Linked DNA regions of Homo sapiens: all the other regions are linked to region 1. The links come from fine-mapping of genetic effects on gene expression. A gene starts in region 1. Each other region holds a variant in brackets. All regions are shown on one strand. Distances are between the middles of the regions. Region 1 holds the start of KCTD20 (potassium channel tetramerization domain containing 20). Region 2 has its middle 10 kb from the start of STK38. Region 3 overlaps PXT1 (peroxisomal testis enriched protein 1). Region 4 overlaps PXT1 (peroxisomal testis enriched protein 1). Region 5 has its middle 23 kb from the start of FKBP5. Region 6 overlaps CDKN1A (cyclin dependent kinase inhibitor 1A).

Region 1 (5,072 bases):
CACATGGCCTAATTCTAACCTCATCTCTACACATCTATTTGAAGGGGGAATAATAAATATAAAAATGCGTGTATTATTGTCCTTACCAAAGTTACTAGATGTCTCTGTTACAGATTTTTTTTTTTTTTTTTTTTTGAGACGGAGTCTCACTCTGTTGCCCAGGCTGGAGTACAATGGCGCGATCTCGGCTCACTGCAACCTCTGCCTCCCGGATTCAAGTGATTCTCCGGCCTCAGCCTCCCGTGTAGCTGGGATTACAGGTGCCCACCACCATGCCTGGCTTATTTTTGTATTTTTAGTAGAGACAGGGTTTCACCAGGTTGGCCAGGCTGGTCTGAAACTCCTGACCTCAGGTGATCCATCTGCCTCGGCTTCCCAAATTGCTGGGATTACAGGCATGAGCCACCACGCCCGGCTTCTGTTACAGAATTTAAGACTGACCTAACTACTACAGTTAGGCCTAATACAATGTATTTCTTAACTTCTTAAGGAAAACGAGATTATTGGAATAGTACGTGTATTTCTGGCATAACAGGAAGGAACAAATTGTGGATGAATAAAGAGAACCTTTTGGCAGCAGTGGAGTTTATCCAGCCCTCATTTCTGCCTCAAAGGAGGAATGCAACTCTGTGCCAGAAATATGTGTCTATATTGCAATGCTGTTGATAAAACAGCCTACTACAGTGCTTTGAGGAAAATAGGCATTACGCAGGTATTTGATGACTAAATTAACGTCCAGCTGAACTGAAAGCCCTCATAATGCTACTAGTACTGCTACATACCAGATAATATGACAGTCAAGGCCATGGGAATTATATGGCATTGGCTGCCCTGGTTCCATGGGGAGACTTGAGTGAGCTGGGCGGAGGAGATTTGGCCTAATGGCATTAAGCTCTGATGATACTAGAAGCAGCCCTCAGAAGGAAAAGATTAATGGGCTATCTCTAAACCATCAGAGCAATATCGGAATATGCATGAAAATCATTTCCTACCCCGTGTCAGGGTCAAAAAAAGCACTATCTTTTCTCATATTGGCTTCTGGAGAGTCAGGGCTTCTTGTCCTACGACTGGTTTAGGGCAGGGGAGGAAAACATCGACAAAGGGTTAAGGCTGTTGGGCAGTTTTTAAAATTCCCAGCCCAGCCTAAAGGTGGTGTCTGTCAACGTGTGGTCGGTCCCTGGATCATCAGTAACAGACCAAGAGTGCAGGTGCTTGCTTAAATCCCAGACTCAGGGACCCATCACAAATCTCTAGAATCAAATTTATGGAAGAGGTGCTAGGGTACTGCAACCTTATTACTAAGGAACAATCTTCTGTTTCAGAACTATGGCCTAGGAATTGGGGTTTCAGGTGGGGGCCTTGAGCGGAAGTCCTCTGACTCTGGATTCATCACATCCGACAGACACTACTACAACACTTTGTTTTGAAGACCATTAAAAAACTACCTCAACTTCTCGCACAGCGAACAGGAACAAAACTAAGGACTCTGGGACATATTTTCATAAGCTGGTTAAACAGTTCCTTCACAGCCTTGTTTATCATGTTAGTTTGTTCACTAGATTCTTATTTAAAAATAAATCTCTTCAACTGAGGAATTTTCAGAAAGAATCACAAACTCCAAAATAGAAGAGTTTTCTCATAGTGCAGAACTGGGCTTCTAAACCTGAAGACACTGCTATAAAAAGCAAAGTTTTATTTAAAAGAAAATTGCTGGTTAAGGCTTTCCCCAGCTCTTTTGCACTCAGAGCCACGGATGAAAGCTGGCAATTTGCGGGTGGCAGGGAAGGAAGACGCGGAAACAGGGCTGAAAAGACCGAGCAAAATGCGCTCGGCTCCAGAGTTCAGGAGGAAGTCCCCACCAACTACCTAATTTTTAATGGAGCCAATTAATTGCCAGAAAAACCGCGTCTGCAAATGTTTTGCCAGTCAACACTCCAGGTTCTCGCCATTCCTCTCCGGCGGGATGAACCACCCGAGGCCTGCAAAAAGCAGTCAAGCAGTCAAGTTACACTTCAGCTGTGCCCACCACCTGGGCGCAGCGTCGCCTCCCTCCCCAGGATCACCAGACTCTGCCCTCCGCGCGGAAACAGGAGCCCATCAAGCCGCTGCCCACAGGTTCCTCGCGCCCAGCTCAGCCCCGCGGCCTTTCGACTCGGGGGTCCGAACCGCCGCCGCGTCCGGAGGAGACGCCCCCTCGGCCACAAAGGGAAGACTCGGGCCACGCCCGCCGCCACACTCTCCCTGCCCGGTCTTCGCGCCCGAAACCGTACCGCGCCGCCACTTACTCGTCGCTCCCCGCCGCGCTGTCCCGCTCGGGGCTGGAATCCGCCCGGGAGGCGCGCGCAGGCCGCGCAGCCAGAAGCCGCAGCCGGGACCGGCTGTGCCGCAGCGGCGCGCGCCCCCCGCCCCGGACCGCGCGGCCACGCGGCTGAGTCACCCAGCGCTTCACGTTAAGAGTCCCCTCCGCGCGTGGCACGCCGGGAAGGCCGTGTCTGGGGACCCCGTCCGGGGCCGCACCGTAAATGGGTGTCGCCTTTCCTCCAGTCCACTCTGCACCCAACCTCAGCGGGCGCACTTTTCTGAGTTGCGCATACCCTCTCAATTATTAAAGGTTGCAGACGGAAAAGTTAGTAGTTTTCGGAATTGTAGAATACGCTCGTGCAGCGCCAGGACGGCTAATGCTTACCCGAAAATGTGGAACCCTGATCTCCCCATGCGTGGAGCGAGGTTGGAGGTAGCGTAGTAAGAATACTGGAGTTGCTTAAACGCATTTGCTCGAAAGTCACTACCCTGGATATACATTCTGGCCAAAAGAAAGGGGGAAAAACTCCACATTTTTCTCAAATACTGAGTTTCATGAAGGTACCTGCTATTACAAAGGTGTATTACAAATTTTAAATCAACCGGAAGCAAGTTACTGGGAAAACTGTGTTATGAGTAAAAGATTTCAGCATTCAAAAAACATCTATATATGGTCCATGTCCTATGAACCAAATGCTGGAAAACCCAAAAGGAAGTTCTTATTGTCACGGTTTCTAGTGGCTTTTGTACTTTTAAAAATTACACTAGGCCGGGCTTGGTGGCTCACGCCTGTAATCCTTGCACTTTGGGAGGCCGAGGCGGGCAGATCACCTGAGGTTGGGCATTCCAGACCAGCCTGGCCAACATGATGAAACCCTGTCTCTGCTAAAAATACAAAAATTAGCCGGGCGTGGTGGTGGGCGCCTATAACCCTAGCTGTTTGGGAGGCTGAGGCAGGAGAATCACTTGAACCCAGGAGGCAACTGGGAGGTTGCAGTGAAGTTCCCTCTCAAATATATATATATATGTCTATATATACTAATTAAATATACTGATTATGCAAACTATTTGTAAATTGTTGAAAGCTCTATAAACTAATAATAGCACAAATTTTAAAATTCGAAGTCGATTCTCCTTTTCCTTACAAGAGACTCTCTGAAAACTAATTTGGAATTGGATTAGAATTGGTGTTGAAGTGGAAGGAATGTAAGAAAATAGTTTGACTCAGTAGGTTTCACACGGTTAACGGATACTTGTATAGCAAATTTGTTTTATCAGGGTCAAAAAATTTAATTTTCAAAACTGAAGACATAAATTTTTTCATTATAATTTGGTCTTAGAGGCCTAGAGGGTCATTTTCCATTTCTATTCTCCCTCGTTTATGACTATAAAGTATGCAGGACTGTATTGTGTTTATCTCAACATGGACTAGGCTGTGAGGCTGCACTCGTCATCTGTAAGTCAGTCTCACGTCCCCATGGTGACTCAGCTTCCCTGCTGCTTGCGTCAGTGGCTCTGCCCTCCCAGCACTTCCGGGCTGGCAGAAGAGCTAGATTGGAGAATCCTGTAAGGGCTCTCCTTTGCCTCTGCCAGAAGTGAGTGGCCTTTTCACTTCTGCTGACGTTTCACTGTCCTGAACTAGTCACCAGGCTCAACCTGACTGACTCTAAGAAGGCTGTGAGATATAAATTCCTGTATGCCTGGAGAAAAGGAATATGAAAAAAGATTTAGTAAACACATGGCTATAAACCAATTTGAGTGAGTTATAGGCTCCAAACTTTACAACAGTAGCAGCATAGAGGATTGTTCAAACTAATGCCTTTATTTCCATTTTTATAAAGTACAGTGTTACAGCCTTTGAGTCAAAGAAAAATAAAAAACCTTCTGATATTCCTGCAAAACAGTTCTTGAAACAAATTCTTCCTTTCTGGAAAGATTCCTTCCCGTAGATTTGTATATTGTCTTTCTTTTTTTTTTTTTTTTTCTTTTTGTGGAGAATGGAGTTCTTATTCTGTTGCCCAGGCAGGTCTTGAACTCCTAGGCTCAAGCTATCCTCCTGCTTCTGCCTCCCTAAGTTTGGGGATTACAGGCATGAGCCACTGCACTGGCTGCAGATTTGTGGTATACAAAAATCTGGCCTGAAGTTTGGAGAATCAGGCTAACTACCGAGTCTTATTATTATTTTTTAAACACTTTCATTTTGGAAATTAAAGCATACAGAAAGATATAATAAACACCCGTTATCCATCATCCAAAATAAATAAGTGATAACATGACTTTTAATAGTTAATGGTTCAACTTTTGGCTAAAATTTCATATAATGAACAGCATATCAGACTGGGTACCTTTTTTGGGCAGACATCAAGGAGACGGGATATGAGAAATGTATATTCACAGAAAGCATAGGTGTTTGCTGGTTTTTATCATTTTATTTCTAATTTAATGTAGGTATCTCAAGACCCCGAGTCTCTGATATTTATTTGTATCTGAAACCAAAACCTTCTTCTTTTTTTTTTTTTGAGACAGTGTCTCCCTTTGTTGCTCAGGCTGGGTGATCACCACTCACTGCAGCCTCGATCTTCTGGACTTAATCCCCCTCCCAGGTTCACGCCATTCTCCTGCCTCAGCCTCTCGAGTAGCTGGGACTACAGGCGCCCGCCACTGTGCCCGGCTAATTTTTTGTATTTTTAGTAGAGATGGGGTTTCACCATGTTAGCCAAGATGGTCTCGATCTCCTGACCTCGTGATCCACCCGCCTCGGCATCCCAAAG
Region 2 (5,072 bases), 110 kb before region 1:
AGATTACTTGATCCTCAGGAGGTCGAGGCTGCAGTGAGTGATGATAGTGCCACTGCTCTCCAGCATGGGTGACAGAGTGATACCTTGTCTCTAAAAAAGTAATAATAATAGGTCAGGAGCGATGGCTCATGCCTGTAATCCCAGCACTTTGGGAGGCCAAGGTGGGTAGATCACCTGAGGTCAGGAGTTCGAGACAAGCTTGGCCAACATGGTAAAATCCCATCTCTACTAAAAATACAAAAATTAGCCAGGTGTGGTGGCACACGGCTGTAATCCCAGCTACTCGGGAGGCTGAAGCAGAAGAATCGCTTGAACGTGGGAGACAGTGGTTGCAGTGAGCCAGCATCGTGCCACTGCACTCCAGCCTGGGCAACAGAGTGAGACTCTGTCTCAAATAAATAGACAAATAATAGTAATAGTAATTAATTAGTAAAATATCTGTTGGATATCCTGTATTCTTCTTCCTTTGGGTTGAGGCACAAAGAACAGCGAGAAGATATAGTCATGACAATAGTCATAATATCTACTATTTATTGAGTACGTAACTCCTGATTATGTCATTCAACTAGCCAATCAATCAACCACATATTAACTGAGAACACAGCATGTGCCAAACACTAACGACAGTGTTTCCTCTCATGGTGCTCATTAGAGCTTCTCAACTTTTTTCACGGTCACACATGAAAAATCATACCCTTTGTACATCCCCAGAGGTAAATGAATGATGAGGCTACTCAAGGCTGCCTGAGCCCCTTGGCTGCCCTGAGGGCTGGGAGATCAATATCTCATCATCCCCGGCCTCTGATCAAAATTCTTTCTTTCAATATCTATTCTGATATTGAATGTGACTGTGGAGAAGTTTTGAGGGCAGAGGTGAGGACCAGCATAGGGTAAAAGCTGCTAGTAGTCTTCAGTGAGTTAAGTAAGAACCTTGGAGAATGGGGCTGGTTTCAAAAGCTTGGAGCCGAAAAGAAAAACAGAAAAGCAGCATTAGATTGTTCCACTTTCAGTAATGAGGAGAGAAAGAGAGACGGAAGCTCATTCTAAAAATCAGGAAATGGAAAAAGTTACTCTAAAAATTAGGAAGATTAAACTGAGGATCTTTAACTAATCTGAGATTCAATCCTAAGGTTTCAGAGGTGAAAACACTTGTGAGTTTCTGTTGGCACATCTGTTTGTAGACACTGATGCCTGCTCATTGTGCACTGTGCACAGATGGAAGCACCCTGAGAGTATCTTGTTTCCTGCAATAGAGTGCAACTGAAAATAAGGCTGCAGGAATTAAATCAGATTGTCAATGGAATAGTTGAGTTCACTATGAAAAACAGCCCCATTTAGATAAAATTCATTTTGATCTATCTGTCAATGGAAAATTATGAAGCCCTTAAAAAAAAAAAGAAGGGGACTGGGCTCAGTGGCTCACACCTGTAATCCCAGCACTTTGGGAGGCCGAGGCAGGCGGATCACGAGGTCAGGAGTTCAAGACCAGCTTGGCCAACATGGTGAAACCCTGTCTCTGCTAAAACTACAAAAATTAGCTGAGCATTGGCCAGGCGCGGTGGCTCACGCCTGTAATCCCAGCACTTTGGGAGGCCAAGGCGGGCAGATTACGAGGTCAGGAGATCGAGACCATCCTAGATAACACGGTGAAACCCTGTCTCTACTAAAAATCCAAAAAATTAGCCGGGCGTGGTGGCAGGTGCCTGTAGTCCCAGCTACTCGGGAGGCTGAGACAGGAGAACTGCTTGAACTGGGACCCAGGAGGCGGAGGTTGCAGTGAGCCAAGATCACGCCACTGCACTAGGCTACAGAGCAAGACTCCGCCTCAAAAAAAAAAAAAAAAAAGGACTGAGGCATTTCTATTTCTCCTGATGATCTGGAAGGCTTTCCAAAGTATATTTTTCAGCAAAGGATAATAAGGTGCAAAACTGTATGTTTAGAGTGTTATTTAAAAAAATATATATGTACAGTTATGTTTGCATATGCAAAGAATATGGAAGGATGCAGAAGAAACTGGTAAGACGTGACCCATGGGGAAGGGAGCTCAGTGGCTGGGGATCAAGGTGGAAGGTTTTCATTGTATACTCTTTTGAATTTTGTACCAGGTATTATTTATTTAGTGAAAAAATATATGCAAATACAGGAAAAAAAACTTTTGATGAATCATTTTTGCAAGGTTCATTTTTAACGCAAACAGACACTCCCTAATTTGCTTTGGAAATGTTGACATTTGTGTACTGGATTTTCTTAAAGCATGAAATACCAATGTCTGCAAACCACACCCCGGGTGCTTAAATTTGAGGTCACTGACAAAACCAGCCATACAAGTGTGACTTTCCAAAAAGCTAAACATTGTTGAGAGAAGCAGAGTGAGTGTCAGGGGCTTGATGTATCCCCAGCATCTGAGAATCTCAGAGAGAAGGGACTGTGGAGAGTTGGTGCAACCTCCTTTTTTTTTTTTTTCGAAATGGAGTCTCCCTCTGTCACCCAGCCTGGAGTGCAGTGGCGCGATCTCGGCTCACTGCAAGCTCCGCCTCCTGGGTTCAAGTGATACTCCTGCCTCAGCCTCCTGAGTAGCTGGGATTACAGGCACATGCCACCATGCCCGGCTAATTTTTTGTATTTTTAGTAGAGACGGGGTTTCACCGTGTTACCCAGGATGGTCTTGATCTCCTGACCT[C/T]GTGATCCGCCCGCCTTGGCCTCCTAAAGTGCTGGGATTATAGGCGTGGGCCACAGCTCAAGGCCTGCAATCTCCTTTCTTCAGAAATCAGGAAATGAGGCTCCAAAGGGGAAGAGACTTGCCTAATAAAAAGATTGTGCCATTTTGTGTAAAAAAAATGAGAAACATAAGTCTCTGTATCTATATTTGCTTCCAATTGCATGAAGAACTCCAGAAGGATACACAAAAACAAATGGGAAACTGTACAGAGAGGGAAGGGGAACAATGAAAGGATGCGAGACAGAGGTAGAAATGAGATTTTCACTTTTAATCTTTTATAATCCTTGATCTATTCTTTAAAAGAATATGAAAACATTAAAAAGAGAGATGGACCATGACATCTCTATGACCCACAGTGCAGTTTTCAAGGATGACATCATAAGACTGTGTTCAGAGACAAATTAAGAATCCTGTGTTGGGAGCGGTGGCTCACGTCTGTAATCCCAACACTTTGGGAGGCTGAGGCGGGTGGATCACCTGACATCAGAAGTTGATCAGCCTGGCCAACATGGTGAAACCCTGTCTCTACTAAAAATACAAAAAATTAGCCGGCTGTAGTGGCACACGCCTGTAATCCCAGCTACTTAGGAAGCTGAGGCATGAGACTTGCTTGAACCCAGGAGGCAGAGGTTGCAGTGAGCTGAGATTGTGCCATTGCACTCCAGCCTGGGCAACAAGAGGGAGACTGTCACAAAAAAAAAAAAAAAAAAAAAATCCAGTGTTGAAATCACAGATCAAATTCTACTGCTTCAAATACCAATGACTATCTAGAATATTTTGTCATATTGAAGTTTTGTCTTATTGAGATTTGTTTGAGATAATACAGGCCATCAGCTAGGCTTAAATCTCATTTTTAATTATAGGCAAATTTGTCAAAATTGTGCGATAACAGCCCATTGCTAGTCTGTGGATCCAGTCATACCAGGAGGTACCACAGGGCAGGAGAAAAATCAGTGGACAGGAAGTCAGGGAACCTGATTCTAACCAAGTTTTGTAACTTAATTAACGTTGTAATTTTGCGCAACTTAATTCCTCTCCTTAGACCAGTTTCAACATCTGTAAAATAAAAGGACTACATGAGGTGATCTCTAGGTTCCCTCTTAGCTCTGATATGATTGGATTCTGAAACCATTATTAGCAATTTAGAATGAAAAGGAAATTTACGAGGTCATTTTTGACATCCAGGAGACGGTAACAGGCAGTTGGGTCTCCTTCTGCTCCTTTGACTTGTAACTACATGAGAACTAGCAGGTGATCTTCTTGGCCCTTTTCTCTTGAGCCCACACCCTGATGGTGATTATCTAGATCCAGGTTCCTGAAAGAATGAGTTTAGGGAAATGTTAATCATTCTCCACAAAGCATCTCAAATACATTTGGGAAATCCTGTATAATAAGTGTTCCTGATGGAAGGTCAGAATGCAATTAAAGGTCCTGAGAAGTCCTGCAACAAAGAAACATGTAACTTTTACCTAACCCAGCACTCTGCACATTTATGGATATAAAACACTTTGGAGAGAGAGAGAGAGAGAGAGAGAGAGAGAGATAGAGAGAGAGAGAGAGAGAGAGAGAGAGTGTGTGTGTGTGTGTGTGTGTGTGTGTGTGCTGTTACCTCTATTTGGAACAAATGGGATCCAAATGCTTCCATTTTTAGGAAATTTATGAGATCAGTTATCAGATGGCAGTTAGGACAATTCTGGGGCCTCTGCAAATATGGAAGATTTAGCACGTTCCTAAGGGAGCCTGAGAATCTTGTGATTCGTGCAGCTTTCCACCCCACCAGTTTTTTTCAACAGTGGGAGCCTCAGAAACTCCGTTTTACAGGGAGGTTCCCATCTAAGCACAATTAGGTCAATGGACATCTTATCCCTTTCACTTCTGGCTTTCAGAATTTTTCAGAACTATAATTTTTATTCAGAAATTATAATTCTCTTTCCTTCCCCCCTAAGGCCTTCAGTCTACATTTGCATATATATATATGTGTGTGTGTATATATACTTATATGTGTGTGTGTGTGTGTGTGTGTGTGTGTGTGTGTGTGTGTATATGCATATATTCCCTCCCTCCTAATATCTGCAATCCCCAGTGGGTAGGTGGGAAAAGTTACGTGTCATTTGGGCACTGGACCTGACACACTTCACATCCTTTATTAGTTTTCGAGATTTTTCACCCTCAATTCCCAAAGAAACATTGACTCATCACAACATACACACACAGTCATTTGGAAAAAATTAATTTAAAATGTGTATCTCTTAAGACTTCTCAATTATTTTCGTCCCATTTTTAAGCATTCAGTTTAAAGAAAGTAAAAAAATCTCTAAGCAGGCACAAACATATAGTCAAAGCTCTCATTGTT
Region 3 (5,072 bases), 33 kb after region 1:
ATTACAGGCATGAGCCACTGCGGCCAGCCTATTTTTTTTATTTTTGTTTTTATTTTTGAGACAGAGTCTCACTCTGTCACCCAGGCTGGAGTGCAGTGGCACAATCTCGGCTCATTGCAACCTCGACCTCCCAGGTTCAAGCGATTCTCCTGCCTCAGCTTCCCGAGTAGCTGGGATTACAGGTGCACGCCACCACGCCTGGCTAATTTTTGTGTTTTTGGTAGAGACGGGGTTTCACCATGTTGGCCAGGCTGGTCTTGAACTCCTGACCTCAGGTGATCCACCTGCCTTGGCCTCCCAAAGTGCTGGGACTACAGGCATGAGCCACCGCGCCTGGCTCCATTCTTATTTTTAAAAACCTCTCTAAACACATACATTAGAATTTGCAAAACATTATTTTCTTTCACTGAATTATGTGTTTTCTTCAGGATTACTGTTTTGATTATCTGGTATTTGTTTTTTTGGCAAGGTCTTACTCTATTACCCAGGCTGGAGAGCAGTGGCAAGATCTTGGCTCAGTGCAGCCTCAACATCTTGGGCTCAAATGATCCTCTCACCTCGGCCTCTGAGTAGGTGGGACTACAGACACACATCACCACGCCTGGCTAATTTTTTGTTTGTTTTTATTTTGTAGAGATGGGGTCTCACTATGTTGCCCAGGTTGCTTTTGAACTCTTGGCCTCAAGTAATCCTCCTGCCTTGGCCTCCCACAGTGCTGGGGTTACAGGCATGAGCCACCTTGTAGGTAATTCTTTGTTATTTTAGTGAAAGATACACTGGATAGCTAGTGTGGGTTTTTTCTGCTGTTATGTGAGAACTGTTCCCCCAGATGGGTAGTAATAACTAACATTTATATAGTGTTTACCTGTGTTCTAGGCACTGTTCTGTGTAACTCATCAAGTCATCTCAACAACCCCTCTATGAGGTAGTTACTATGGTATTTCTTTTTTCTTTTTTGAGATGGAGTTTCACTCTTGTTGCCCAGGCTGAAGTGCAGTGGCGGGATCTCAGCTCATTGCAACCTCCACCTCCTGGGTTCAAGCGATTCTCCTGCCTCAGCCTCCCGAGTAGCTGGGATTACAGGTGTGCACCACCATGCCCAGCTAATTTTTGTATTTTTAGTAGAGACGGGGGTTTCACTATGTTGGTCAGGCTGGTCTCGAACTCCTGACCTCAGGTGATCCACCCACCTTGGCCTCCCAAAATGCTGGGATTACAGGCATTGAGCCACTGTGCCCAGCCATGGTATTTCATTAAGTTCAATATTCCATCAATTGTAAGATGAACCATTATTTTGTTTACTACTAAAAAGGTAAATAATGCTGTTGAAATATGACATGCCATTATGAGATTATAAGACACATACTGATTATGCAGGTATTCAAGATCTTAGAATGAATAAAATAATACATTACTATTGCCATTTTACAAATGAAGAAGCTGAGGCATGGAGAGAATGGATAACTTGTGGCAGGTTACATAGTTAATATGTAGCAGATTTTATATTTGAATCCAAGCTTTCTGGCTTCAGAATTCTACCACTATGCCTAAGTGCCTCTCCAGGACTCTCCCAAATGGAGACTCAGATGGTGCATAGGAGGGTTTTGAGCTGTCTGGGCTTTAGGGAGATGAGTTAGTTTCTGGCTCCATGTCCCGCAAATGCCAGAACAAAGAGACCTTTAATTTGAGGTGCCAACGTCCATCAAGAAGCTTCTGCTTTCACCACAGGGTTTGACCTCTTCCATTAAAGAAGAGTGGTCTGGATTCCTTCCTTCCTTCCCTCCTTCCTTTTCTTCTTTCTTCTTGCTTTCTTTTCTTCCTTTTTTATTTCTTCCTTTCTTCTCTTCCTTTTCTTTCTGTTTGTCTTTCCCTCCCTTCTCCCTTCTCTTTCTCTCTCTTTCTTCCTTCCTCTCTTCCTCCCTTCCTTTCTTCCTCCCATTTCCTTCCTTCCTTCATTTCTTTTTTTTTTTCACTCTTGTTGCCCTGGCTGGCGAGCAATGGCGCTATCTCGGCTCACTGCAACCTCCGCCTCCCGGATTCAAGCGATTCTCCTGCCTCAGCCTCCCAAGTAGCTGAGATTACAGGCATGCACCACCATGCCAGGCTAATTTTGTATTTTTAGTAGAGACAGGGTTTTTCCGTGTTGGTCAGGCTGGTCTCGAACTCCCAATGTCAGGTGATCCACCCGCCTCGGCCTCCCAAAGTGCTGGGATTACAGGCATGAGCCACTGCACCTGGCCTTTCTCTCTCTCTCTCTCTCTCTCCTTCCTTCCTTCCTTCCTGGTCTCGAACTCCCGACCTCAGGTGAGCCACCTGCCTTGGCCCCCCAAAGTGCTGGGATTACAGGCACGAGCCACCGAGTCCCCCAGCCACCCTCCCTTCCTTCCTTTCTTTCTCTTTCCTTCCTTCCTTTTCTTTTTCTTTCTTTCTTTCTTTCTTTTTTCTCTTTCTTCCTTTCTCTTTCTTTCTTTCCTTCGTCCTTTCTTCCTTTCTCCCTTCCTTCCTTCCTTCTTTCCTTCCTTCCTTC[CTTCT/T]TTTCTTTTCTTTCTCCTTCCTTCCTTCCTTCCTTCCTTCCTTCCTTCCTTCCAGACAGGGTCTTGCTCTGTCACCCAGGCTGGAGTACAGTGGAACAATTATGGCTCACTGCAGCCTCAAACTTCTAGGCTTAAGTGATCCTCCCACCTCAGCCTCCCGAGATCTGAGACTACAGGCACACACCACCACACCTGGCTAATTTTTTGTATTTTTTCTAGAGACGCGGTTTCGTCATGTTACCCAGGCTGGCCTCAGACTCCTGGCCTCAAGTGATCCTCCCACCTCAGCTTCCCAAGGTGCTAGGATTACAGGCCTGAGCCACCTTACCTGGTCTGAATTCTCTTTTCTTTCTTTTTATTTGCCTGAACTCTGTGCTAGGTACAGTGAGCTGGGGGCACCAAGTGGTGCAGTTGATCCCCATCAGACTTCCAGTTAAGGGTGCGTCTCCCTCTCCCAGTCTCTGCGTCTTGGTGGGGTAGATGGGCTTCCAAGCATCAGGAGCCCCTGTGGTGGGTTCTCTGTGCTTTCTGTCCTGGTTTGTTTATTTGCATCTTGTCTCATCTGCTTTCTGCCTTCCAGAAACACACATAGGTCTCTCATCTGTTGTTGACCTGCCTCCCATTCTCTTCAGTGTTCTGGCCTTGTTCTTTTTCATACTTTGATTTTGGTGAGGTCTTGGGGGAGATTAGGAGAGATGGAGAAGCCAATGCTTGTGCTCAGTCTTGAACCAGAAGCCCCTAGACCCCTATTTTTAGTGAACAAAATCAGGAGTATAAATGGATGACCACTACGTGAGAAAATAAAATATTAACATTATGCCTGGCAGTGGAAAGGCACTTATAAAACCTTCACACCATGTTTGCTTAAAAGCTTTCCTAAATACAACTCGAGGGACAGGTGATGGGAGGTCCTTACGTAGGATTCTCAAAGTACAATAGTATTTTTTAAAGTTCCGACACATTGAGGCTGATTATTTCCTTTACAAAGTATTTTTTTTTTTGAAACATGGTCTTTGTCACCCAGGCTGGGGTGCAGTGGCATGATCATGGGTCACTGCAGCCTCAACCTCCCAGGCTCAAGCAATCCTCTCACCTTGGCTTCCCAAGTAGCTGGGACTACAGGCACTACCATGCCCAGCTAATTAAAACAATTTTTTTTTTTTTTTTTTTTTTTGGTAGAGACAGGCTCTCCCTGTGTTGCCTAGGCTGGTCCTGAACTCCTGGGCTCAAGGGATCCTCCCCCAACAGCCTCCCAAAATGCTGCAAAGCACCTGACCTACAAAAAATTTTTTTTTCTTTTTTGAGAAAAGATTAACCAAGTCCAGGCATGGTGGCTCACTCCTGTAATCTCAGTACTTTGAGAGGCTAACGAGGGAGGATCACTTGAGCCAGGAGTTCTAGACCAGCCTGGGCAACATGGTAAGACTGTCTCTACAAAAAATAAAAAATTAGCTGGGCATGGTGGTACATGCCTGTAGTCCCAGCTACTTGGGAGGCTGAGGTGGGAGGATTGCTTGAGCCTAGCAGGTTGCAGTGAGCTGTGATTGTGCCACTGCAACAGAGAGAAGCAGAGAGAGGCAATAGAGAGAGACCCTGTATTAAAAAAAAAAAAAAAAGGCTGGGCGTGGTGGCTCACATGTGTAATCCAAGCACTTTGGGAGCCTGAGGCGGGTGGAACACCTGAGGTCAGGAGTTTGAAACCAGCCTGACCAACATAGTGAAACCCTATTTCTACTAAAAATACAAAAATTAGCCGGGTGTGGTGGCAGGCTCCTGTAATCCCAGCTACTCGGGAGGCTGAGGCAGGAGAATCACTTGAACTCGGGAGGTGGAGGTTGCGGTGAGCCAAGATCGCGCCAAGGCACTCCAGCCTGGGCAACAGAGCAATACTCAATACTCCATCTCAAAAAAAAAAAAAAAGAAAGAAAAAGAAAAAGGATTAACCAGCTGGGCTTGGTAGCGACACATGTTGAAGTCCCAGCTATTTGTTCTTGGGTCAGGTGTCCACTTCTGATCCAATCCACTTTGGCCTGGGGTTGTGGTGGGAAAATGTAGGAAGGAAACTGATTGCTTAGGCAACAGGATAGATTCTCCTGGAGGGAAAATCTCTATCTAGGAGCAATAGGCTATACCTTTAAATAGGCTATACCTTTAATACAAGGACCTTAAGTTGTGTTTTAGGATTCTGAATCATCATTATTATCACACACTTTGGACGCGGAGGCAGGAGGATTGCTTGAGCCCAGAAGTTCAAGTCCAGCCTGGGCAACATGAGACTCCATCTCAAAAAAAAAAAAAAGATTAACCATGAAGTTTTTCCAAATTCCTTACTGGGCCATTTAGACTATGACTTTATCTTGAGACTTGTGTGTGGATGTATACATATTCCCACAACTTTTCAGTAACAAATATTACATAAAATGAGCAACTTTTTTCTCCTAGATATTAAAATTTTAATACTTGGAAAATAATACAGAGTTTTACTTTTTTCATTCATTTTGAATCTTGTTAAAGGAATTTTTTTGCCTCCAATATATAACT
Region 4 (5,072 bases), 45 kb after region 1:
AGGGGATTTGTGTGCACATTGAAGTGTAACAAACTGTTTCACACCCTCAAAACTGGATGCAATTAGAATCACCTGTTGAGTTTTAAAAACGACAGATGCCTGGGCCCAACCTGGAGAAATTCTGATTTAATTGGCACAAGGTAAGGCCTGGGAACCTGGCATTTTAAAAACTGCCTCAGTGAATCTAATGCACAGTCAGGGAGGAGAACCTATGCCTTGGACTGTGGTTATCCTCCCTGAATCAGCCCGAAGGGTAGGATGCAGGCCCTACCCTGGCCGGTTTCTTAGAATCTCCTGATTATTATAACAGATGATAAGGGAAAATAGGAAAGACTAATGATTACTGTTTGAAATTTTGGGGGTGATGAAATCCACAGCTAACTTAGTTTTCCTCCGAAACAACCTGTATTTGGCAGGAGAGAATGATTACATGGGCTTTGTGACAGACGGGGTGGCAGACCTCTCAGAGCCCAACTTCTTGCCCTTAGATTCAACTATCCTGTGAAGCTTTCTTGGTGCAGCTTCCACCATGCTGTCCTCCACCATGCATGCCACAGGGAGTGCCGTGTACTCTTTTATACTCAGGTCCAAATGTGGACAACACACAGCCTTTCCCTCAAATAAAACATCCTGGAGACAAAACATGAATGGGAGATCCCAACAATAATGCTATAAAAGCAAGAGGGGGCCAGGTGCGGTGGCTCACGCCTGTAATCCCAGCACTTTGGGAGGCCAAGGCGGGCAGATCACTTGAGGTCAGGAGTTCGTGACCATCCTGGCCAACCTGGTGAAACCCCGTCTCTACTGAAAAACACAAAAATTAGTCAGGCATGGTGGCACACACCTGTAGTCCCAGCTACTCGGGAGGCTGAGGCAGGACAATCTCTTAAACCTGGGAGGCAGAGGTTGCAGTGAGCTGAGATTATGCCACTGTACTCCAGTCTGGATGACAGAGTGAGACTCTGTCCCAAAAAATGAAATGAAATGAAATGAAATGAAATAAAATAAAATAAAATAAAGCAAGAGAGAAATAAAGAGAAAATAAACATAGAGAACATAGGCAATCAAATAAACTATTTGATAAGCCAATTTCATTCCAACAAATATTTATTGAATGCCTACTATATGCCAGACTCAGTTCCAGGCATTGGTGGCTACAGCAGTGAGCAGCAGGGCTCATAGAAATGATGTGGGGAGGGGGCAGATAACAAGGCAGATGAACAATAAATAGCCAAGTCAGACAGGGATGCAAGCTCCAAGCAGGATCAGGGCACACTGACTGATGGAGAGTGACTTCCAATGGGCTGTCAGGGAAGGCATCTCTGGGAAGGTGATATTTAAGCAGAGCCTGGAAATGAAGGAGCTAGCCATGAGAACACCTGGAGTGGGAAAGTGTTCCAGGCAGAGGGAACAGCCAGTGCAAAGCCCAGCCCCACCAATCTACTTTGTGTCTCTGTGGATTTGCCTATTCTGGACATTTTATATAAGTAGAATAACACAACATGGAACTTTGTGTATGGCTTCTTTCACTTAACATACTTTTTTCAAGGCTTATCCACATTGTAGCATGTATCAGTATTTTACTTCTTTTTACAGTTGAATATTCTATTGTACGATATACCACATTTTGCTTATCCATTCACCAGTGGTTGGACATTTGGGTTGTTTCCACTTTGTGGCTATCATGTATAATGATGCTGTGAATGTTTGTATATAACTTTTTGTGTAGACATGTTTTTATTTTTTTGGGGTACATACCTAGGAATGGAATTGCTGGGTCATGTGAAATCTCTATGTTTCACTTTTTGAGGAACTTCCAGACTGTTTTCCAAAGTGGCTGCACTATTATACACTGTGGCCCACCAGCAGTGTATGAGGGTTCCAGTTTCTTCACATCCTTGCCAACATTTGTTATTAACTATCTTTTTGATTGTAGCCATCCTAGTGAGTATGAAGTGTATCTCATTGTGCTTTTGATTTGCATTTCCCTGATGAATAATGTG[C/T]ATCTTTTCATATGCTTATTGGTCATTTTTCTCTTTGGAGAAATGTCTATTCATATCCTTGTCCATTTATAATTGACTACTTATCTTTTTATTATTGTAGGAGTCTTTTTTTTTTGAGACAGAGTCTTGCTCTGTTGCCTAATCTGGAGTGCAGTGCTGTGATCATAGCTCACACAGCCTTGAACTCCTGGGTTCAATTGATCCTCCCACCTCAGCCTCCTGAGTAGCTGAGACCACAGGCACATGTCACCACACCTGGCTAATTTTTTAATTTTTATTTTATTTTATTTTTTGTAGAGACAGGCCCTCACTATGTTGCCCAGGCTGGTCCTGGATTCCTGGGCTCCTGCCTTGGCCTAGGAGTCATTTGTATATTCTAGATGTAAGTTCCTTATCAGATATATGATTTGCAAATATCGTATCCCATTCTGTAGGTTGTCCTTTTACTTTATTGATAGTGTACTTTGAAGTACAAAAGTTTTGAATTTTGATGAAGTTCAATTTATCTACTTTTCTTTTTGTTGCTAGTGCTTTTGCTTTGGGTGTCACACTTATGTTTTCTTCTAAAGGCTTTTTAGTTTTAATTGTTAAATTTAGATCTTTGATCCATTTGAAGTTAATTTTTACATACATTTTAGTTAAGAGTCTATCTTCATTTTTTTGCATATGGGTTGTTGTCCCAACACCATTTGGATTTTGTTGTTGTTTGTTTATTTCTTTGAGACGGGGTCTTGTTATGCTGCCCAGACTGGCCTCAAACTCCTGGGCTCCAGAGATCGTCCCACCTCAACCTCCTAAGTAGCTGGGACTATAGGTACATCTCACTGTGCCTGGAGTACCATTTGTTGAAAAGACTATTGTTTCCCTATAAATTGTCTTGGTGTTATGGGATCTTTGGGGTGTCAATTTTCTGGCCGGAAACCTCTGTGGCCATGGCATCTTTTGCCCAAGTTCTTTTCCTGCACCCAGTAAGAATGCATCCAGGAAGAATGAGGTATGCAGACAAGTGAAGGGTAAACAAGACAAAGATGAGCTTTATTGAGTGTTACAACAGCTCAGAGGAGATCCGCAGTGGGTAGCTCCTCTCTGTAGGCAGGTTATCCATTGAGTGTTCAGTTCTCAGCAGAGAGGAGGCCCTGGAGAGAGTAGCTCCTCTTTGCAACTAGTCGTCCCAATGTCTGCAGCTGTCAGTGGAGAGGCGGCCCTGGGAAGGGTGGCTCCTCTCTGCCAGCAGGTCATCTCTGCAGCTCTTAGCAGAGAGGGCAGTTCCTCTCTGCAACTTGTTGTTTCCTCATCTCCAGCTATCAGCAGGGAGGGTAGCTCCTCTCTGCAGCTGATCATTCCATTGTCTCTCTACCCTCTTTGTCCTGAGGACATCATCTGCCCTGCTCTGGCTGAGCCCAAGGCTTATATGGACCTCAGAGGGGAGGCAGTGCATGCTGATTGGTCGATGGGTGGCCATGGGTGGGCCTGGAAGAGGCACCACCAGTCCTCACTCTGGTCCACAGGACTGGCAGCCTAGCCCCCAGCCTTTAGGCCTTCCCTGGCCTGAAGGTGGGGTCTCACTGGGGACCCACCCCCTTCCACCCAGGAATCAATCTGCCTCCGGCGCCATGCGGGACTCAGCCCCAACCCCTGCTCAGAGATTGGAGCAGGCTCTGGGAGCAGAGAGAGGCCAGGCAGTGGCAGCAGACACCCCTGAGCCTTCAGGGGTAGGGGTAGGGTGCTTCCTGGGGCCCCTGAGGGTGCAAGCTGCAGAGATGCCTGGGTCCTGCAACTGGGAGGGTGGCCACAGTGGCACCCAGGGAGCTCCTGCCCCAACTCAGAAGGGGCTGGGCTCCTACTGGCTCCATGGAGCATGTGGCCCCAGCTGCACCTTCCTGCTGCAGCCAGCATGAGGACAGCAGCCATTGCCATCATTGGCACCCTTGTTGAAAACCAGTGGGCTGTAAATATGAGGGTTTCTTTCTGTACTCTCAATTCTGTTCCGCTGATCTGTATAGCTATCCTTATGCCTGCTCCAGCTTTTCTTGCAGAACTTTATAAAGCTGGTTTTGACCTAGACATTTGTTCTGTACTATAAACCTGTAAACTTGTACTTTAGAATACCTTCTTTTGTTTGTTTGTTTTTTGAGACAGGGTCCCACTCTGTTGCCCAATTTGGAGTACAGTGGCACTATCTCACTGCAGCCTCAACTTCCCAGGTTCAAGGAATCCTCCCACGTAGGCCTCCAGAGTAGCTGGGACCACAGTTGCCCACCACCACACCTGGGTAATTTTTTTGTATTTTTTTGTAGAGACAGGATTTCACCATGTTGCCCAGCCTGGTCTCAAACTCCTGGGCTCAAGCAATCTGCCTGCCTCGGCCTCCCAAAGTGCTAGGATTACAGGCGTGAGCCACCGCGCTCAGCCTAGAACACCTTTAAATAGACCACAACACATTTAAAAAATAATAGTTTGAAAAATTCCAGCCGAGTGTGGTGGCCACAGTCCCAGCTACTCGTAAGGCTGAGGTAGGAGGATCGCTTGAACCTGGGAAGTCAAGGCTGCAGTGAGCTGTGATCGTGCCACTGCACTCCAGCCTGGGTAACAGAGTGAGACCCTGTCTCAAAAAAAAAAAAAAAAAAAAAAAAAAATCCTAAGTTTGGCTCTGAAATGCTGAAGGCTTTGCTGCTTCAAAGTTCAAATCAAGGAACTTTAACAGAATTTCAAGTCTGGCATGGTAACTTTCTTTCCTATATAGTCATCATTTATTTACCTTTTGTACTCTGTTTAATCAAGCAGTCACATCGATTCTCTAGATGCCTTCCTGCCATTGATGTATTTAAAGAAACTTTTATTCTTGCTCTTGGAACTGCCTATCAAGCAGCTCATCAATTTATATTTTTATCTGCTAAATGGATTGTTGTTGAGCTGCCAAATTTTTTGCTCTCTTGTTCTTTTTACTTAAGCAAGTGCTCTGTCTTTTCAAAAGTGTTCTGTGTTTCTCAAAATAACATCTTTTAGGCCGGGCACAGTGGCTCACACCTGTAATCCCAGCACGTTGGGAGGCTGAGGCCAGGAGTTTGA
Region 5 (5,072 bases), 730 kb after region 1:
GGTTTTGTCATGTTGGCCAGGCTGGTCTCAAACTCCTGACCTCAGGTGATCTGCCCACCTTGGCCTCCCAAAGTGCTGTGATTACAGGCGTGAGCCACCACACCCAGCAGAACACAGAGTATTTTGAAGAAAATACATTTTGAGAGTAAAATCCTATACATCTTGTTTTTCTTTTCTTTTTTTTTTTTTTTGAGGCAGTGTTTCGCTCTTGTCACCCAGGCTGAAGTGCAATGTCTCCATCTCGGCTCACTGCAACCACTGCCTCCTGGGTTCAAGCAATTCTCCTGCCTCAGCCTCCTGAGTAGCTGGGATTACAGGCACATGCCACCACGCCCGGCTAATTTTTGTATTTTTAGTAGAGACGGGGTTTCACCATGTTGGCCAGGCTGGTCTTGAACTCCTGACCTCAGGTGATCCACCCACCTCAGCCTCCCAAAGTGCTGGGATTACAGGTGTGAGCCACTGTGCCTGGCCGCCTAAGATTTTTCAAGTCAGTAAAGAGAGATGTCCTCATAACCCCTTAAGGACCTGCTTAACCATGGGTGGGTGTCAGCTCCTTACTAAGCAAGCCCTGTGGTTTTATGCCCCCAGGGAGACAGACCCCCTGAGAAGTGACCCCAGGCCTCAGTTGAAAGAGCCTCACATCTCAGTGGATGGGCTGGGGACAGAATTGTTCCAATCAGGGATGTCTGTGAGGGATTTCTGGAAGAGGTGAGATTTGGGCTGAGTCTTGACAGATTTTGACAATCAGAGGGAAGGGAGAAGGGCAGGAAGTCAAGAAAATATTTGGACCCCAAGGCTTAGTAGTTGGACAGGTGGGGCAAGAAGGCAGGGGAGAGAGGATGTGAGGGTGTGAGTCCGGAGAGGCAGGTCACAACCCTTCTGGGTGGCTGCACAGTTTTGGACAAGTGGCTGCTTTTTACATTCTCTGCTACCCTTTATGCAAATTGAGCATTTAAGTCTGGGAAAAAGCTCACAGGAGAATCCCCAGGGCAGGAGCGTTTGCTGCTCCTTGGGCCCCCACCCGCCAGCTAGCAGCTTCAGCCTCCTACACTGACTTCTGAGAGGTGCTGTGACTTAGAGCATATGTCACAGCTGTGCTGCTTGCTAGAAGGGTAGGTCTTTTAAAACCTCTGTGCCTTCATTTCCTTAACTGTCAAAGGGTGGTAGTGTCTACCTCATAAGGTTGTTGTTGGAGATTAAATTAGTGAAGGCACCTTAGACCATCTAGACCACCAGCTTCATTAAGTGCCTAGTAGACATTAGCTAATATTGTCACTGGAGCCAACGGTCTTCATAATGAGGCAAAATTCCATTGGGCTGTCCCTCTTCTAGGCCACAGGATTTGGCCTTGGCTGCTGCCTCATTCTAGTCCTAAGGTTCCCCCAACAAGTGTGGCTCCCATTGACCTGAGCCACATCCTCCTCACTCACCACATGCCCCAAGGAGTCACTCCCCTCTTTTTGCCCCACCCGCTTATGCCCACTCTACTAATACTGGCTTCATGTTATAAGATTTTTTTCTTTCTTTCTTCTTCTTCTTTTTTTTTTTTTTTTTTTTTTTTTTAGAGACCAGATCTTGCATTGTCGCCTGGGCTGGAGTGCAGTAGCGTGATCACGGCTCACTGCAGCCTTAACCTCCAGGGCTCAAGTGATCCTCCCACCTCAGCCTCCCGAGTAGCTGGGACTACAGGCACCCACCACCACACCTGGCTTTGGGATAAAATTAGTTTTGCTTTGTGCCCACAGGACCTGAACAGGAAAGCAAAACTGTGATGAAGGTTTACTAAGTAGTTTTGGGGAGTGCCCAGGCCACACGGCCAGCTTCAGTTCTAGGGTCAGCCCAGTTCCTGCCATCAGAAGTGAGTCTCAGAAGACAAGGCACTGGTGCCTCAGCATCTCCCTGAGGGTAGCCAGCTTACCACCCTGCATGTTGCCAGGCTTGGGA[G/A]ATACCTGTTGGCGGTTTGCATGACAGGGTGAAAGCAGGATCTAGCTATGCAATGACAGCCCTCGGATCTCTGAGAACTAGGACAGGATGGTAGACAAATCTGGCTCCTTGCTGTGAAGGGGCAGGTAGTGAGAGAACTGGCTTACAAAACAAAGCCTGGGCCCTTTCCTAGTGCCAGGCCCAACTAGCTCTTCCTTAGCAAACCATAAGGGTCTCAATGCTTCTCTTTGAACTTCCAGGCATATCTCCCTGGAAGATACCTACCACCCCTTACCCTCCTTACCCCCTTCTGGGGCTTTCTCCTGACACCTCCCATTCTGCAAAAGCCTTCTCTAAGATTCCCCTGTAAAATGGAAACAAACAAACAACTCTGTGGCAAGGGTTGAGATGATGGAGTTGGCCTTAATAGTTAGAAATTCCAGGTGACAGGCTTAATTCACTTTGGCGCAGGGGATAAAGGGAAAAAAGAGAGCGGGTAACAAACAATTATTCGCAAGCTATTTTCTAGAAAATACAGAGAGGCCAGGTGTGGCTCATGCCTATAATCCCAGCACTTTGGGAGGCTGAGGCGGGAGGATTGCTTGAGCCCAGAAGTTTGAGGCCAGCCTGGGCGACATAGGGACACGCTGTTTCTACTTTTTTTTTTTTTTTTTTAATTAGCCCAGTGCGATTGTACACACCTGTAGTCCCAGCAACTTGGGAGGCTTAAGTAGGAGGATCATGAGCCAGGAGTTCAAGGTTACAGTGAACTATGATTGCACCACTGCACTCTAGCCTGGGCGATAGAGCGAGACTGTCTCAAAAAACAAAAACAAAAAAACAGACAGAAGTAGAAACATAATGTACCAGACTAGTAAGTACACACACACACTGTGTGTTTTAAATCAACTTTACATGCGCATAATTTACTTATGATAAAATGCACCCATTTAAGTGTACAGTTTGATGAGTTTTGACAAATGTTTACCTGTGTAATGTCTATCACAATATAGATTAATTCCTCCACTCTAAAAGCTTCCCTGTTTCTTTTTCTTTTCTTTCTTTCCTTTCCTCTCCTCTCCTCTCCTCTCCTTTTTTTTGAAGTGGAGTCTTGCTCTGTTGCCCAGGCTGGAGCACAGTGGCACGGCCTCAGCTCACTGTAGCCTTCACCTCCCGGGTTCGAGCAATTCTCCTGCCTCAGCCTCCTGAGTAGCTGGGATTACAGGCACCCGCCACCAAGCCCAGCTAATTTTTGTATTTTTAGTAGAGACAGGGTTTCACCATGTTGGCCAGGCTGGTCTTGAACTCCTGACCTCAGGTGATGCACCCACCTTGGCCTCCCAAACTGTTAGGATTACAGCATGACCCACAGCTCCCGGCCTTCTTTTTTTTTTTTTTTTCTTTTGAGACAGGGACTTTGTCGCCCAGGCTGGAGTGCAGTGGCGAGATCATGGCTCACTGCAGCCTCAACTTCCCAGACTCAAGTGATCCTCTCACTTCAGCCTCCCAAGTAGCTGGGACTACAGGTGCGAGCCACCACTCTTGGCTTTTTTTTCTTTTTGTAGAAACAGAGTTTCACCATGTTGCCCAAGCTGGTCTTGACTTCGCGGACTCAAGCCATCTGCCTACCTCAGCCTCCCAAAGTGATGGGATTACGGGCATGAGCCACTGCACTGGCTGTGTTTGTTTCTTTTTGCAATCAATCGCTACCTGGCCCAAGCAAGGGCCCATCCCTACCCGGTCCAGTCTGCTTTCTACCAGTATAGATTAGATTTATATTTTCTAGAATTTTACATAAATGGAGTCACACAGTATATACTCTTTTGTATCTTGGCTTCTTTTGCTCAACTTAATGTTTATAAGATTTGTTCGTGTTTTTGCACATATTAAGTAGTGTGTTCCTTTTTATTGCTGTATTGTATTCCACTAGATGGTTATACCATAGTTTGTTTATTCATTCTCCTGTTGATGGACATTATGGTTGTTTGTCATTTTGGGCTATTATGAAAAAGTTGCTGTGAACACTCTTCTACAGCTCCTTTTGAGGACACATGTTTTTATTTGTCTTGGGAGCAGAATTGCTGAGTCGTATGGCAAATGTGTGTATGCTTAACTTCAAAAGAAAACTGCTAAACTGTGTTCCAAAGTGACTGTATGTTCTCACCAGCAAAGTATGACAGTTCCAACTGTTCCACATTTTGACCAGCTCTTGGTATCATTGGCTTTTTATTTTTCACACCTTTTTTTTTTTGAGACAAGATCTCACTCTGTAGCGCAGGTTGGAGTGTAGTTGTGCAATCATGACTCACTATAGCCTCAACCTCCCTGGGCTCAGGTGATCCTCCCACTGAGTAGCTGGAACTGCAGGCACACCACCATGCCCAGTTAATTGTTTTATGTTTTGTAGAGACTGGGTTTCCTATGTTGTCCAGGCTGGTCTCGAACTCCTGGGCTCAAGCAATCCTCCTACCTCAGCCTCCCAAAGAGCTGGGATTACAGGCATGAACCACTGCGCCCAGCCCTATGTTTTGCACTTCTGGTTAGGTGCAGAGGATCTCTCGCTGAAGCACACAGATGCTGCCCTGCTACCTTTTCTGAAGCTACTCTTCCTGCCCCTTGTTCTTCCACAACTGCTCTGAGCATCCTTCTGTTTCTGCATGTGCTAGGATCATTTCCTGGAATTCTCATCTTTTGGGCCTTAGCACAAATGTTGCCTCCTCAGAGGTCTTCCCTCACTACCCTCTCTAATGGAATTCTCAAGACTTTTTATCGCATTACCCTGTTTGTCCCGTGAGAACATCAGCTCCATGAACAAACATCTCTTGTCTGTTTTTTTTTTTACCTAAAAGCAGTGCTTTAAAGATCATAGATGCACAATATATATTGCTGAATGGACTTGCAAGTCTAAAGTGTATGTTCAACATATTGACCTTTGGGGTCCTGGGAATGAAAGCGTTTGCATGACATCAAATCAGAAATATTTAAAGCATAAGTTATTTTTATTGTCTGGGACTGTTCTATTTTGCATGTAAATATCTTAAAATCCTGCAAATATAGAAAACAAGAAAGAAAAGAAAAAACAACCATAGTTTCATCAAACTATGTTGATTTCTAAAAAATCAAATTGTTATGGTTTAGAAATACAA
Region 6 (5,072 bases), 240 kb before region 1:
AAGAGGCTGGAGTACAGTGGTATGATCTCAGCTGACTGCAACCTCTGCCTCCTGGGTTCAAGTGATCCTCCCACCTCAGCCTTCCAAGTAGCTGGGATTACAAGCGTGCACCACCATGCCCAGCTAATTTTTGTATTTTTAGTAGAGATTTCACCATGTTGGCCAGGCTGGTCTTGAACCCTTGGCCTCAAGTGATCTCCTGCCTCAGCCTCCCGAAGCACTGGGATTCTAGGTGTGAGCCACTGCGCCCGGCCCAAACAGTTTTTTTAAATAAGAGATCCAGTTGCTCCATAACCTTGCCAATGCTTGGCACTGTCAGTCTTTTTTAATCATTCTGGTAAGTGTATGGTGGTATCTTATTGTGGTATCTTAATTTGCATTTATCTGATGAATAATGATGTTAAGCTATAATATATTCTTTACAAAAAGATTACACAACAAACCAAAATATTGACATTGGTGATCTTTGCAGAGGTGTGACAGTAGTTTTTGTTTTGCTGTTGTTTTTTGCAGCAGTCTTTCTGTTTGCTAAGTTTTCTGCATTCTCTAAATTTAAATGCTTAATTTTTAAAATTATTTAATTATGAAATCCTTCCCAAAAGCCCATTTATTTGTTCTTATAAGGTATAATAACCACAATAGTAATATTACAAGTAAAGTCACTAAGAATCATTTATTGAGCACCTGCTGTATATTCAGCATTGTGGGAGGAGCTGTGAAAGACACAGAACAGTACAGGGTGTGGTCCCTGCCCTCGAGAGGTTTACAGTCTAGGTGGAGAAACGGGAACCAGGACACATGGGGAGCCGAGAGAAAACAGTCCAGGCCAGTATGTTACAGGAGCTGGAAGGTGTTTGGGGTCAGACCCCAATACTCCAAGTACACTAAGCACTTCAGTGCCTCCAGGGGCTCAACGTTAGTGCCAGGAAAGACAACTACTCCCAGCCCCATATGAGCCCACGTGGCATGCCCTGTCCATAGCCTCTACTGCCACCATCTTAAAATGTCTGACTCCTTGTTCCGCTGCTAATCAAAGTGCAATGAACTGGGGAGGGATGGGGTGGATGAGGAAGGTCGCTGGACGATTTGAGGGGCCAGTGTCTCCCTCCTAGAAAGATCTACTCCCCCATCATATACCCCTAACACAGAGATAACCCCACTCAAGGGGGCCTGTGCCACCACATGGGACCCTCACCCCCACAGCTAGAGGAGGGGGCGGTCGCTGCTTGAGCTGCCTGAGGTAGAACTAGGGTGCCCTTCTTCTTGTGTGTCCCTTCCCCTTCCAGTCCATTGAGCTGGGGGTGGGGGTGGGACAGGCACCTCAGAGCCACCTGGAGCTGAGAGGGTACTGAAGGGAAAGGACAAGGGGGAGGGACAGCAGCAGAGGGGAATTGCAGAGCCCAGCTGGAGAAAAAGGGTAGCTGGGGCTCCTCAAAAGGTACAGGGGAGCCAAAGAGGGAAAAGGCTCAACACTGAGACGGGCTCCCCAGTGCAGGTCAGAGGGGCCATGAGGGCAGGCGGGGTGGTCTGCTCCAGGACCCCACCTTCCCCCTGCCTTCACAAGACAGAGGGGGGTATCAAGAGCCAGGAGGGTACCAGGTCCCCAGCTCAGCCCTAGGCTGTGCTCACTTCAGGGTCACCCTGCCCAACCTTAGAGGAGGTGAGGGGACTCCAAAGTTTTTGATGATGCCCCCACTCGGTGAGGCCCCTTCAAAGTGCCATCTGTTTACTTCTCAAATGAAAAAGAATTCAGGTCTGAGTGTCCAGGAAAGGGGGTGAATTTCATAACCGCCTGTGACAGCGATGGGAAGGAGCCACACCCCTCCAGAGGGTACCACCCAGCGGACAAGTGGGGAGGAGGAAGTAGCTGGCATGAAGCCGGCCCACCCAACCTCCGGGAGAGAGGAAAAGGAGAACACGGGATGAGGAGGCTTTAAATAGTATTTCATAAAATAAAAATGCCCAGCACTCTTAGGAACCTCTCATTCAACCGCCTAGTTTTTGTTTAAATAATTCTAATGCCAGAGGCTGGGGGGCAGGGGGCGGCCAGGGTATGTACATGAGGAGGTGTTTAAATTAAAACACAAATAATAATTAAGACACACAAACTGAGACTAAGGCAGAAGATGTAGAGCGGGCCTTTGAGGCCCTCGCGCTTCCAGGACTGCAGGCTTCCTGTGGGCGGATTAGGGCTTCCTCTTGGAGAAGATCAGCCGGCGTTTGGAGTGGTAGAAATCTGAGGAGAGACAGCAGAAGTCAGCCAGGCCAAGAAGAAGAGGACGCGGCGGAGCTGCCCAACTGAGGAAGACAGTGGGGGGCCAGGACACCCTTCCCTGGGGCCAATGGGGCCGACTGCTGAGAACAGGAAGAACTCGGGGAACGTCCACTCTGTCTCTTGAGGGGTATTATGGAGTGTCCCACCATGCTTCACAGATGTGATTTTATCCATCACCGCACCCGCACCCATGGGTCTGCTCTAAGTCAAGCTGCCCAGCAGAGGAACCACTACTAGCTCTGTGTGCTTGTTTAAACAGACTACAATCAAATAAAATGAACAATTCAGTTCCTCAGTCACATGAGCTGTGTGTCAAATGCACAACAGCCGTATGTGGCTCGTGGCCCCTGTACCGGACACTCCCATCCCTGCAGAGTTACTGGACAGTGCTGATCTAGGGATTCTGTTACAAAATCCATGAAAGTGTTCAGCACAATGCCGGGCCCATATAAACGTCAGTAGTTGTTGTTATTATAATTAGTCTTGACCCAACGGCAAATTCACTTTGAGACCTTAGATAAATCACTCTACCTCTCTGAGCCTGGTTTCCTTGCCCTAAAAGGATGGCAAGGGGCTGGGCATGGTGGCTCACGCCTGTAATCACAACACTTTGGGAGGCTGAGGCAGGAGGACTGCTTGAGCTCAGGAGTTCAAGACCAGCCCGGGCAACATGGTGAGACCTTGTCTCTACAAAAACTCAAAAAATTAACC[G/A]GGCGTAGTGGTGTACAACTATAGTCCCAGCTTCCCAGCTACCCAGGAGGCTGAGGTAGGAAGATCGCTTGAGCCCAGGAGTTTGAAGCTGCAGTGAGCCATGATCGTATCACTGCACTCCAGTCTGGCCAACAGAGTTAAGACACCTGTCTCAAAAAGAAAGGCGGGCAGGGTGACAAGAATGTCTTATGTTATAACATTGCTATAAGGACTAAATAAATCTACCTTAGAAGCTTGGCAAAGGGCCTGGCATAATGAACATTCCCAATAAATGTTAGCTAGTTGGTCTTTGCTGCCTACTTGCTGTGTGACCTCAGGGAGGTTGCTTCCCCTCTCTGGGCCTGTTTCCTTCTACCTGGAGCATGCTGGACCAGGACCAGACAGGTCAGCCCTTGGACCATGGATTCTGAGAATCCTGGTCCCTTACAAAGTCCTTCCGTGCACATGTCCGCACCTGTCATGCTGGTCTGCCGCCGTTTTCGACCCTGAGAGTCTCCAGGTCCACCTGGGGACCCTTCAGCCTGCTCCCCTGAGCGAGGCACAAGGGTACAAGACAGTGACAGGTCCACATGGTCTTCCTCTGCTGTCCCCTGCAGCAGAGCAGGTGAGGTGCCAGGCCGCCTGCCTCCTCCCAACTCATCCCGGCCTCGCCGGGGCCCCGTGGGAAGGTAGAGCTTGGGCAGGCCAAGGCCCCGCACACGCTCCCAGGCGAAGTCACCCTCCAGTGGTGTCTCGGTGACAAAGTCGAAGTTCCATCGCTCACGGGCCTCCTGGATGCAGCCCGCCATTAGCGCATCACAGTCGCGGCTCAGCTGCTCGCTGTCCACTGGGCCGAAGAGGCGGCGGCAGGCCTTGCTGCCGCATGGGTTCTGACGGACATCCCCAGCCGGTTCTGACATGGCGCCTGCAGCAGAGATACAAGGAAGGCCCTGGTCACGGCGGAGATTAGACACTATGTTACCTGGCCGGGCTTTGCTGTGTCACCTCAGGTGACGTCTTCCTACCAGAGGGTCTCTCTCACTCCTTCCAGCTGGTCTTCCTGCTTCCTTCCCACAGGAGGCCTGACCCCCACCAGCAGAGCTCAGCCAGCCTGGCACACCAAGGTCACTGGGAGAGCAGGCAACTGAAGGGCAAGCTAATGTCAACAAAGGCAAGTCTATTGCAAGAGCAAGGACCAGGGTCCTGTTTGCCACCAGGTATTATCAGCTAAAATCAATTTGTTTTCCCCCCAGAGGTGTCCCTCATGGGTGTGAATGCCCCCCAAATATGTGTGAATTGCCAGAGTCCAGCAGTTTCCTAATCGCAGCCCTGGCCAGAAGGTCAATTCCCAAAAGAAGAAACAGTCTGACAGTTCCTCCAGCCTCCTAAGTCCCCCGACCCAGATCCCCAAGTAGGGTAACCCTGCTCTGCCAAGTAAAAGTACCCGGGACTTTGGGGCAAAAAGCACCCGGGTTGTGGTCCTAGCTCTGCCAGTTACTACGTAAGCTTTAAAAAGCCACTTAATGTCTCTAGGTCTCAGTTTCCTCATCCATAAATGGGGCCATGTACAAGTTTAAAGAGCATGGCTACAGACACATACTCAAGAAATTGATCACAGAGTCCATGCAGCAAGGCAGACAGAACAGAGCTGAATGAAAGGCTGTATCCTGGTGGTTAAGCAGGAGGGCTCTGGAGCCAGATCACCTGGGCTGGAGTCCAGGTTTTACTAGGTGACCCTGGGCAAGCAACTTAACTTGTCTGAGCTCTAGTTTCCTCATCTATAAAATGGGGATAGTAATAGTGACTGTCTCAGAGGATAGACATGAGAATTAACTGAGTTAATGTAGGTAACGTGCCAGCAGCACTTCGTATAGAGAAGTGCATTGAAAACAGAAGTATGATTATTCCTCTCTGCCTTCAGTTTTACTGAGCCTCCCCCCTATCACTTCCCCCTGCCAACTACCTCCTTCAGACAGCAGCTGACAGGTGCTGTAGGCTGAGGGCCTTTCCCAAGGATGTCGTCAGGCGGGTGGCCTAGGGGTAAGGAGGGGCCGGGCGGGGCAGCGCAAGGGATGATTTCTCCCAGGCTGAGCCACATCCTGCCAGG

What was found. PIP is the estimated chance that this variant, and not a neighbour inherited with it, causes the effect.
Region 2: its variant is fine-mapped to the expression of KCTD20 in whole blood (TOPMed, PIP above 0.99).
Region 3: its variant is fine-mapped to the expression of KCTD20 in whole blood (INTERVAL, PIP 0.99).
Region 4: its variant is fine-mapped to the expression of KCTD20 in whole blood (INTERVAL, PIP 0.97).
Region 5: its variant is fine-mapped to the expression of KCTD20 in fibroblasts (GTEx, PIP above 0.99).
Region 6: its variant is fine-mapped to the expression of KCTD20 in whole blood (TOPMed, PIP above 0.99).

Annotation. Positions count from the first base shown.
Region 1 is chr6:36,440,325-36,445,396 of GRCh38, reverse strand. It overlaps KCTD20 (potassium channel tetramerization domain containing 20), which reads right to left and starts at 2,397. Exons shown (of 8, transcript NM_173562.5): 1 at 2,286-2,397. PXT1 (peroxisomal testis enriched protein 1) reads left to right here and starts at 2,543. Exons shown (of 5, transcript NM_152990.4): 1 at 2,543-2,862. RefSeq lists enhancers at 1,280-1,339, 1,945-2,044, 3,529-4,076 and silencers at 2,205-2,494, 3,653-3,722.
Region 2 is chr6:36,555,153-36,560,224 of GRCh38, reverse strand. No RefSeq gene overlaps it. Among named protein-coding and RNA genes, the nearest start is that of STK38, 10 kb to the right of the region's middle. The variant C/T (reference allele first, on the strand shown) is at 2,681.
Region 3 is chr6:36,407,337-36,412,408 of GRCh38, reverse strand. All of the region lies in intron 3 of PXT1 (peroxisomal testis enriched protein 1), which reads left to right. Among named protein-coding and RNA genes, the nearest start is that of ETV7, 22 kb to the right of the region's middle. The variant CTTCT/T (reference allele first, on the strand shown) is at 2,528.
Region 4 is chr6:36,395,061-36,400,132 of GRCh38, reverse strand. The region is part of intron 4 of PXT1 (peroxisomal testis enriched protein 1); the gene reads left to right. Among named protein-coding and RNA genes, the nearest start is that of ETV7, 9.9 kb to the right of the region's middle. RefSeq lists a silencer at 39-88. The variant C/T (reference allele first, on the strand shown) is at 2,004.
Region 5 is chr6:35,709,572-35,714,643 of GRCh38, reverse strand. It overlaps a transcript of FKBP5 not described here. Among named protein-coding and RNA genes, the nearest start is that of FKBP5, 23 kb to the right of the region's middle. The variant G/A (reference allele first, on the strand shown) is at 1,948.
Region 6 is chr6:36,682,915-36,687,986 of GRCh38, reverse strand. It overlaps CDKN1A (cyclin dependent kinase inhibitor 1A), which reads right to left. Exons shown (of 3, transcript NM_000389.5): 2 at 3,441-3,890; 3 at 655-2,236. The coding sequence starts at 3,885. The coding sequence ends at 2,187. Among named protein-coding and RNA genes, the nearest start is that of CDKN1A, 6.7 kb to the right of the region's middle. RefSeq lists a silencer at 131-210 and an enhancer at 4,882-5,001. The variant G/A (reference allele first, on the strand shown) is at 2,987.